Linked DNA regions of Homo sapiens: region 2 is linked to region 1. Evidence: fine-mapped expression QTL. A gene starts in region 1. The other region holds a variant in brackets. All regions are shown on one strand. Distances are between the middles of the regions. Region 1 holds the start of LAMTOR1 (late endosomal/lysosomal adaptor, MAPK and MTOR activator 1). Region 2 has its middle 110 kb from the start of DEFB108B.

The links. PIP is the estimated chance that this variant, and not a neighbour inherited with it, causes the effect. A credible set is the group of variants that fine-mapping cannot tell apart.
Region 2: its variant is the best candidate, but not a certain one, in a credible set for the expression of LAMTOR1 in whole blood (TOPMed, PIP 0.51).

The regions. Positions count from the first base shown.
Region 1 is chr11:72,100,867-72,106,244 of GRCh38, forward strand. It overlaps LAMTOR1 (late endosomal/lysosomal adaptor, MAPK and MTOR activator 1), which reads right to left and starts at 2,431. Exons shown (of 5, transcript NM_017907.3): 1 at 2,317-2,431. The coding sequence starts at 2,358. It overlaps LRTOMT (leucine rich transmembrane and O-methyltransferase domain containing), which reads left to right. Exons shown (of 9, transcript NM_001145310.4): 6 at 4,098-4,146; 7 at 5,190-5,344. It overlaps TOMT (transmembrane O-methyltransferase), which reads left to right and starts at 5,058. Exons shown (of 3, transcript NM_001393500.2): 1 at 5,058-5,344. The coding sequence starts at 5,086. It also overlaps the pseudogene LOC124902837. RefSeq lists enhancers at 2,137-2,216, 2,997-3,517 and a silencer at 2,317-2,586.
Region 2 is chr11:71,718,924-71,724,301 of GRCh38, forward strand. It overlaps the pseudogene ENPP7P8. Among named protein-coding and RNA genes, the nearest start is that of DEFB108B, 110 kb to the right of the region's middle. The variant G/A (reference allele first, on the strand shown) is at 2,275.

The DNA.
Region 1 (5,378 bases):
CAGAAGCTGTGGGCTTTGCCCCATCACCTCTATAAACTCCCAGACACCCTTCCTCCCTAAATACATAGGCTCAGTATTAAAGAGCTAAAAAGACAAAATGTTTGCCAAAGATAAAACTATGTATTTCTAAGGAAAGCTGGCTCCATAATGAGGCCCAAGTTAGCTTCCTATGTGTCTGTCCTCCCAGCTCCACTTCAGACAGATCTTCCTGCAGGACAGGGTAGTCTCTTCCCTATCAGGGGTTCTTCAAGAAGAAGGTTGGCTGATCACTTCTCAGCCTTCAGCTAAGATCAAGTGAACAACAAGGTTATTTTCTTGAAACCCAGACTTAAAGAAGAGGCCATGCTACCTACTTCAGAGCAGACAAACATCACCCCACTCCCAAAGTGCGAGTGGAGCATGGGTTAGGTTTGTCACATCAAGGTTTGTCTCTGCATTAGTGTAACCCAAGAGGCAGGGTTTCACTGTCTACCTTAGCACAGACATAGCAGCCTGCCCGTGACTGGCCACCTGGTCTAGGGGCATGGCTGAGACAGCTTGGCCCCATGGATAAAGTACATGGCCTAGCGTCAGAACACCTGGGCACTAGCACTTCTCAGCTTGGCCAAATCACTTAGCTTCTCTGAACTTCTTCCTCACCTTTCAATAGACATAACCCACACTAATATGACGGATGTCTGGCAAGAGTCAAATTAGATAACTGTGAAGGCCCTTTGTAAACTGTAACGTGTTGTATATTTTTTATTATGATAAAGAGACAGAGATGAGAGTCGGAGAGGGGCCTGCCCAAGAACTCAAAGAGGGACTGTGGGATGGTGGATGGTTATGGCCCTTGCTACATGAGGCCTCAAATCACCCAGCAGTGATTAAGCACCTTCTCTGGGTGTTAGGAACAGAAATGAGAGCCCCCCAAGGAGAAGGTAGAGATTCAGGAGAGCAGCAGGCCCAGCTCTCCCTTCCAAGTAGAAGCTTGTATCCTTTCTCATACGGCATTAATCCTTCTTGACTCATTCCCTGCAAGAGTCCATATTATGCTTTAAGGGACAATTTCCCACTAGGCTACAGCTCTCCCAGTAGGCAGGGTTATTGTTGTCTCTTTCTCAAAAAGGTGGAAGTGAAGTGAGAGGTATTAGGCACAACACATGCCTAACACAGGGCAAAGGAAATATGTGTTCATTGGGTGTATGGAGAATTGAGAACCAGAAGCCACCCTTGCTTCCCATACAAACGACATTTTCCTAGGCTTAAGCCCTTAATCCAAAATACGTTCACTGAAGAACGAACTACTTCCCAAGTACCAGTGATATAATCTATTTTTGTGACCATCTTCCCCATTAGACCGTGAGCTACCTGAAACCTTTCTACTCTCTCAGGTCTACTATATGTTCAAATGTAGAATCCGGGCTTAGAGACGATCAAAAAAGGAGAGTAGACAGCAACTTGAGACTTCATCCTTGAATGTCAGGCCAGGCAGGGCAGGGATTAGAGTGTGGGGAGAAGTGAGAATGCACTAAGAGGAAGAGGGAGAATTTAAAACTGTACAGGTCTCCCCAGCCTAACCCTTTCTCCAAAGGTATCAGATCTACAGCCAAATTCTCAGAATAGGCATGTCTCCAGCTAAAGGAACCCTCAGGCCCCAGGCAGACTGCACTGAGGCAAGCCAAACTCAGAACCAAATGAACTTCCCGCTCCATTTCTCTTTTCCCACAATCTAGCCAAAGCTAAATCCTCTTTGTTGCTTCCCAGACAATTTCCCACATGTCCCGATGTCCTCACTGTATCGATTAAATCCTTCATTGGCCAATTCAAAGGCCACCAACTTCCAGAGTCGTCCCCTGGCCCTAGACTAGCAGCGACCTTCCTTCTGCAACCCCAGGGACTAAGACGATACACGAATTCCTGATTCATCTCAGGACAGACTAACTCAGGGCCTCAGCTTACCCACCCCTAAAATGGATTCGCAAAGCCCACTAATACACAGAAGACACAGGAAGCTGGGGAAGGGAGTGTTTCCCGGGGACCTAGACTGAGGATCCTTGAATCTGAAAAGTTTTGAAGGTAGGAGCAAACGGAAGTGGTGGGAGCGAGCCGGACAGGCGGCTGCCTGCACACCCCGAGGCGGGGACTGTGTAGAAATCTGGGGCTTTAACAGGGGTAGGAGCCCGGCTTGGCGTCTCCTCTGTAATCTGTCCCCTCCAGGCCTCCGTATTCAGTGAGCCCTGCAGTCCGGCTGCCCGTCCTCCGCAGGTTTCTTTCTGGGCCCCATGCCCCAGTGTCTTAGCCCTCATTCCCGAGCCCCGCCTGCCGCGGCCGCACCTGGTCCGAGTCCTCGTTCTCGCTGCTGTAGCAGCACCCCATGGCCGGGGTCGGGCCGGGCGCTCAGGCCGCGCCGAGGAGGGACGGCGTCCGTGAGGAGCCCTTCCGGTCACATGACCCGCGGCGGCCTCCCGCAGGCAACCACCCGCCCCCACCCCCCGTACCCCCTGTCCCGGAGCCGCTTGGCCGCCTCAGTCAATACCCCGGCTTCCGGTCCCGCCCGCTAGCGCGTGATCGTTGTCAACCAATGGGAAGGCGTAACCGTACACGCAAGCACGTGATGCGGGGAAAGGGCGGGGCGGATCACATGACTTCATCTTTCCAGTCTCTAAACTGGCAGTAGTGGCCATCGTGAATTGTGTTATGCGTTCTCGTGGCCACTAGGCCACTTTTCTGGGCCATTGAGCGAACTCGTACCAAATGCCCTCGTATGCCCTTGTGATATACTCTTCTAAATGCCATGCGAGGGGCGACTGGGATCCAGGCCTGATGCTCCAGATCGTACGGTCTGGGTGCACACACACAGATGATCCAGATGACCAGTACCTAGTCGGGGAACACAGAGGGTGTATCGCCCAGCTGGGCTGGGGGTGAATACACAGAGGGTGTATTCTCCACCTGGGCTGGGGATCTGCGACTTACAGGAAGAAGGGACCTTATACTACCTTCACATGCTGACGCGCAGCGGAGATAAATCCTGGTAGAGGAGATAGAAGCCACCTCACTGACCTCTCTGCTTTCAGGCTTTTATCTTTAATTCTGCCTTTTTTAACAGCACCCATTGTAATCGAACGCACAAAGCTGACCATCAGTTCTCTTTTCCTAACCCCCGCTCCATGTCTTCCCTTGGGCCCTGAACACAGGTCCAAGTCCGTCCAAGATTGTATAGTGATCCATTTGTTGTTCATGAGCGTGTGATTGGGTGTTCACCAGCATGTATCAAATGTGCCACCCTCAAATCTTGTTTTGGCACATTACCCGTCTGACATAACAAGAGCCTGACACCTCTCCCACTGCATGTTCTGGGGTGAGGGGTGGAGGGGTCAGCAATGTGTTTCACTGGACATAGAGAAATAATGTAGTTTCCTGATTGATCTACTGGACTTTGTACATGCAGCCTGGTCTGCCTACTGTCTTTACTGTCTTCGAGACTCAGTACAATGTCCTCCTGATTACCTTCTCTGACTCCATTCTCTGGACATGCCCAGCTCCCTATGCTTAATCCTCATCCAGTGTTAATTCATGCATTTATTGAATCAACAAATATTTGCTGAGCGTCTACTATGTGCCACACATTGTTATATCTGGATATGCAGCAGTTCACAAAACAGCCAAAGTCCCTGTAGTCATGGAACATCCAATAGTGATCACACTATATTGTATTCTCTGTTCCTGGGTCAGTCTCACCTACCAAACTTGGGAGTTCCTGGAGCACAGTGACAGGTTCTGACTCTTCCCTGTAGCCCAAGGCATGGCCTTGCTTACAGAAAACTTGCATATCAATGAGCATGTTACAGTCACCCCATCACCTTGGCTCACCCCATGCCCCATCTTCTGATCCAAAGTATTGGAGAAGTCACCAGATCTCATACCTCTTATAACCCCTCAAATCAAGACCCTGAGGTTCTGTAAATCTTTTGAGGTTCCTGAAGGGTAGGAGGCAGCTCAAGCTCGTCCCTGGGGCTGGTAACTTGAACTGCAGGTCTCAGGTGACAGCAGCAGCCTCAGCATGAATAATTGAAAGCCATTCCAGCCTCCTACCTCAGGGTTATCCCCCGCAGCAGGCCCTGGACTCCCCGACCTGTCCTGTGCTCTGGTCCTCCAGCCCAGGTAAGCAGGGCCCTGGATTGTGGGTTCCCAAGCTCACCAGTTCAAGCCCACCGCATCACTCACCTATTCACACCCATCCATACACTCTTTCATTTTTACTCCCCGCCATCACCAGGGGCCTTGCAAGAAGGCCGGCAAGGAGGTCAGATCTGGATGAGGAGGAGAATGGTCCAGGACATGGGAGGAGAGGCCCATTCCCCATAGGTCCCTGGAGAGAAGAGCTGAGTAGAGGGAAAATGTGTGCTGTGTGTTATGTGTATGTACACATTTGTGAAGGGAATTCTGAGACAGCACAGGAGAAGAGGGGAATACAGCGGAGAGGAGATGGGGCTGGAGAATTATTAAAGAATCAAAGACTCCTCCCATCCTCAGGGAAGAGCAGGCAGAGGGAGAGTCCTGGGGTGGGAAAGAGGACATCTCACTCTAACACCCTATGGGGTATTTTGATTGCATTTTACTGAGGCAGGGCACAGTGATAGTGAAGGTGTTTTTGACTGCAAATCTATGCTCTTTTGCTACACAGCAGTGGTCAGAGGAGACCAGGCAGGCAGAGGGTAGGGGTGGGGGAAGATATCCCAGAGGTGAATTAGTGAAAGGGGTCCTGAAGAAGGGGTGACTTCAAGGATAAAGAGAAACAAGTCAGGGGAACAATGTGAAGATGGGACCAGGGGTTGGGACCGGGAAGAGGTGGTTTGGGGCTGGGTGCTGAAAGTAGACAGTATAGAGTCCTTGAAAGTACACAGGCTTGGAATCACACTAACCTGGATTCAAATCCCAGTTCTGCTCTGTGACTCTGGACAAAAGACTTAGCCTTTCTGAGCCGTGGTTTGTGAAATATAAGGATAATAATTGCTACTGGCAAAAGCTACACAAATAGGCAAATTGTGGGTATGGGATTCCCTCCCTACCTCCCTCCACCCCAGGGCCCAGGTAGGGACCATGTCCCCTGCCATTGCATTGGCCTTCCTGCCACTGGTGGTAACATTGCTGGTGCGGTACCGGCACTACTTCCGATTGCTGGTGCGCACGGTCTTGCTGCGAAGCCTCCGAGACTGCCTGTCAGGGCTGCGGATCGAGGAGCGGGCCTTCAGCTACGTGCTCACCCATGCCCTGCCCGGTGACCCTGGTCACATCCTCACCACCCTGGACCACTGGAGCAGCCGCTGCGAGTACTTGAGCCACATGGGGCCTGTCAAAGGTCAGTGTTCCCTAGCCTTCTGCTCCAAGAAGTA
Region 2 (5,378 bases), 380 kb before region 1:
ATAATAGTGCCTTATTGTCTCTCAGTCATCTTTCTCTCCCACATGCTGGAAGGAGAGCCAAGTCCAATTTATCCAATTACAAAATAGCAACATTGGCATCATGAGATCAGCTAACACAACTTTCAGAGGCAATCTATCTTCCTACCAAAAGTAACCAACATCTGTGGAGCACTTACCATGACTAAGGGTCAACATAAGTGGTTTGCATGCTGCATGCATCAGGATGGACCAGGTTATGCTGCAGTAACAAATTAACCCCAGAGTCTCAGCAGCTTAGCAACCAAGGTTGATTTCTTACATTCCATGTCCACAATGGGTTGGCTGGGTATGGTGTGCTCCATATGGCCACTCAAAGACCTAGAATGATGGAAATTCTACCATGTTAATGCAAGGATTCTCCCATAGTTACTACACCAGGAGATGAGAGAATGAGATAGTTATTCCCAAGCCCTCAAAAGCTGTAGACTAGAGGTGATATCAGTGACTTCCACTTATAAAGCCTTGGACCCTGGCATGGATCCATCTAACTACAGGGGGTCTGGGGAATACAGGGAGCACCTGGAAATCCCATGAGCAGTAACCATTCCTGCCAGCATGCATTATTTCATCTGAACCTCACAACCCCATGGAATATAGAACAGAGGCTTGGAGAGTTAAGGGACCTGCCCCAAGGCGTCACAGATAATGAGTTGCAGAGCTGAGATATGGCCCTCAGCCTGGCAGGTTTCAAACCACTATGCTGCATACTCATCACAAAATTCTATGAAATTCCTCATACAGCAAAACACCACACCAAGTGAAAAGAAAGCCAAGTTGTGCAAATACAAAATAGAACTGCCCGGACACTTCACCTCCTCACCCACCCCACCCCCACCGAAAGAATCAACCTACGCAAATAACTGGAATGAAATTCTCAGGCAATTTCAGCAGGGGAAATGGGGTTATCTCATCTGGGTCTCACATCCGAACTCATCAAGACAAGACCTTCCCTAAACTTCACCTGAACACCTGGACACACCGTCATGTCTTGCCGCTTCTTGTTACTGGAAATCCAATGATGATGTCTTTATACAATTTATAGGTCTTTCTATAAGTGCCAAGATAAATGTCATCTCTGTACCTGCATATCATTCAGAGGTAGGCAAGCTTCTATGTAAAGTGCTAGATAGTAAATATAAACTTTGCAGGACTCATATGATCTCCATCCTATACATTTTTTTGTTTTTGTTTTACAATTTTTTTTTTCTTTTTAGATAGGGTCTAAAAAGAAAACAAAACTTATCCATGTTGTGATATGGATGAACGTTAAAAACATGCTCAGTGAAAGAAGCAGACATGAAAGGTCATATATTGTACAATTCCATTTATATGCAATGTTCAGTCTAAGCCAATCGACAGAGATAGAAAGTAGATGAAGGGTTTCCAGGGGCTGCAGGAGGGGATATGCAAAGTGACTGCTGAATGGATATGAGGCTTCCAATTGAGGTGTTGAAAAAGCCCTGAAACTAGGTAGTGGTGACAATTGCACAACATGATAAATGTACAAAATGTCACTGAACTGTACACTTTCAGATACACAAAATGGTAAATGTTGCATATATTATACCACAATTTTATTCATTTATTTTAGAGAGAGAGTCTCACTCCATCACCCAGGCTGCAGTGCAATGGCACAATCATAGCTCACTGCTGCCTTTACCGCCTGGGCTCAAGCAATCCTCCCACCTAGTCTTCCAAGTAGCTGGGACTACATGTGAACGCTACCACACACAGCTTTTTAAATTTTTTTATAGAGTTGCATTCTCGCTTTATTGCCCAGACTGGCCCAAACTCCTGGCTTCAAGTGATTCTCTCATCTCAGCCTCCCAAAGTGCTGGGATAACAGGTGTAAGCCATCAGGCCAGGCAATTTTTAATTCTTATGCGAAATTTTCAAATAATTCCTAGGATTAAAAAAAATGTCGATCAACATGGGGATTAGAGGAAAAAATAATTTTAAACAAAGAAAAAATTAAATGAGATGATGTATATGTATACAGTGCCTGGCCTCATGATCACTGAGTCCACTGCAGCTTTTTATTTTTTTTTTCCATATAGGGTCTCACTCTGTCACCCAGGCTGAGTACAGTGGCATAATCATGGCTTACTGCAGCCTCAACCTCCTGGGCACAAGTGATCCTCCCACCTCAGCCTCTCATGTAGCTGGGACTACAGATGCACACAACCACACCTAGCTATATTTGTTGTTGTTGTTATATTTTTTGGTAGTGACAGG[G/A]TCTCACCATGTTGCCCAGGCTGGCATCTTGAACTCCTGGGCTCAAGCGATCCTCCCACCTCAGCTTCCCAAAGTGCTGGGATTACAGGTGTGAGCCACCATGCCCATCCTGTTGTAGCTATTTTAATAGTGCTGGTGAACAATAATTTGCTCTCCCTATAAAAACAGAACATACAAAGCCAAGGAAAGCACCAATCTAGTTTGTTCTCCCCAGATCTTGAAATGTTGGAATTAGTATAAGAGTGCAAAATATTCATGTGGTTTGATTTTTTTTTTTTTTTTTTTTTTGGAAATGCAGTCTCGTTCCATCGTCCAGGTCAGAATGCAGTGGCGCAATCTCGGCTCACTGCAACCTCCGCCTCCTGGGTTCAAGCAATTCTCCTGCCTCAGCCTCCCGAGTAGCTGAGATTACAGACATGTACCGCCACGCCTGGCTAATTTTTGCATTTTTAGTAGAGATGGGGTTTCTCCATGTTGGACAGGCTGGTCTTGAGCTCCTGACCTCAAATGATATACCCGCCTTAGCCTCAAAGTGCCGGGATTACAGGTGTAAGCCACCATGTCCGGCCAGTTTGATTTTTTACTGTGGTAAAATACATACAAAATCTATTATTTTAGCCATTTTCAAAGGAAAAATTCAGTGGTGTTAAGTGCATCCACCACATTGTACAGCCATGTTCCCCCACCCATCTCCAGAACACTTTCATACTGTCCTGCAAATATGCAGCACCTTGCTACACTCCAGTTTGTTTGTCCCACAACAGAGCTGGGCTGAATTAATTATTAATGTGACTTTGTTCAACAACGGACTAAAGAGGGAGAAGCCCATGAACTGTGTGAGGAGTGCATGACAGGTGCTCGTGGGATGACGTGGCTCGGCGCCCTCCAGCTGCTGCTACCGCTGCCTGTCCTGCTGGGCGGCCACCTCCTCCCAGGGAAGAAGAGCACTCACAACTGCTGCTGATCTCCTTCCAGGGCTTCCGCTGGGACTAGGATCAGGATGTGGACACCCCCAACCTGGACCGTCTGGCCGGGGAGGGCGTCAAGGCCAAGTACCTCATGCCGCCCCTTGTCACAATGACCTCCCCGTCCCACCTCACTGCCATCCCAGGTAAGCGTCACTCTGCCCATTTCACCTGATGCCCATCAAAGCCCCAGCGTCCGTCATTCCCTGTGATAAGAAGCAAAAGCTCGGTCAGCTCTAGGGAGGTTGAGGCGGCTCCGGGGTCTCACTCTGTTGCCCAGGCTGTAGCTCAGTGGCATAATCACAGCTCAGTGGAGCCTCAAACTCCTGCTCTCAAGCAGTCCTCCCTAGCTCAGGCTCCCCAGTAGCTGGGGATACAGACAAGCCACCGTGTCTAATTTTCTCATTTTCTTAGAAATTGGGGCAGGGGGTGTCTCACTATGTTGCCTGGGCTGGTTTCGAACTCCTGGCCTCAAGTGATCATCCCACCTCAGCCTCCCAAAGGCTGAGATTGGAGACATGAGCTACTGTGACTGGCCTGATCTTTTTTAAAAAAGTAAATAAGGCCGAGCATGGTGACTCACCCCTGTAATCCCAGCACTTTGGGTGGCTGATGCGGGTGGATCACCTGAGGTCAGGAGTTCAAGACCAGCTTGGCCAACATGGTGAAACATCGTCTATCCTAAAAATACAAAAATAAGCTGGGCATGGTGGCAGATGCCTGTAACGACAGCTACTCGGGAGTCTGATACAGGAGAATCACTTGAACCCAGGAGGTGGAAGATGAAATGAGCTGAGATCATGCCATTGCACTCCAGTTTGGGCAACAGAGCAAGATTTTGTCTCAAAAAAAAAATAAAAGTAATAAAAATAAAAAGGTAAATAACTAGAATCACTTTTAAATAATTGTATAAAAATAATAAAACATTGACATTTACAGAGCTCAGTTAGATGAGGTGACTCATACCCTCCAATGGTGTCCTGGTTCTCTTACATAAGAATTGAAATGTCTTTCTGTGGCTCAAAAGATCCCACGCAGACTGGCCCCTGGCCCATCTTCTGCCAGCCTCTCTCATCTCTCTCCCTCTCCTTCACTTCCTTCCGGATCACAAAGGCCTTTTGCCTGTGCCTTCTGCCCTGCTCCCTCCAGCCCCAGGGCCTTGGCCTGCGCTAGTCCAGTCCCTCCAGCTCACCAGGAGCATGCAGTCCAGTCAGGGAGACAGACACCAGACACCCAAACAGGCACATACATCCCGTGACAACTCAGGAGGCATCAAGGAGGAAAACGAGTTTTCCAGGTACAGACTACAGGGGTAAACTGGCTTCAAGCTAGAGAGGGAGAAAGGGGGTCTCTGATCATGGGGCGGTTGAGCTGAAAGAGATCTTAGGGGATCAGAGCAAGGAAAAGTGTTCCAGGCAGAGGGAAGAGCATGTGTGAGGTCTCTGAGACAAAGACCTGGTCATTTCAGAATCCCAGTGGCCACTAAAATAGAGGGATTCCAACCTAAAAAGGAGGAAGAGGAGGCTGCTGGAAAGCAAAGTACTCTGTGTAAGAATCATAATAGCGGGGGTGGAGCCAAGATGGCCGAATAGGAACAGCTCCAGTCTACAACTCCTGGCTTGAGCGACGCAGAAGACAGGTGATTTCTGCATTTCCAACTGAGGTACTGGGTTCATCTCACTGGGGAGTGTCAGAAAGTGGGTGCAGGACACTTGGTGCAGTGCACTGAGCATGAGCCCAAGCAGGGCGAGGCATTGCCTCACCCGGGAAGTGCAAGGGGTCAGAGAATTCCCTTCCCTAGTCAAAGAAACGGGTGACAGATGGCACCTGGAAAATCGGGTCACTCCCACCCTAATACTGCACTTTTCCAATGGTCTTAGCAAACGGCACACCAGGAGACTATATCCCGCACCTGGCTCGGAGGGTCCTAAACCCATGGAGCCTCACTCATTGCTAGCACAGCAGTCTGAGATCAAACTGCAAGGTGACAGCAAGGCTGGGGGAGGGGCGACCACCATTTCCTAGGCTTCAGTAGGTAAACAAAGCAGCTGGGAAGCTCCAACTGGGTGGAGCCCACCACAGCTCAAGGAGGTCTGCCTGCCTCTGTAGACTCCACCTCTGGGGGCAGGGCATTGGCAA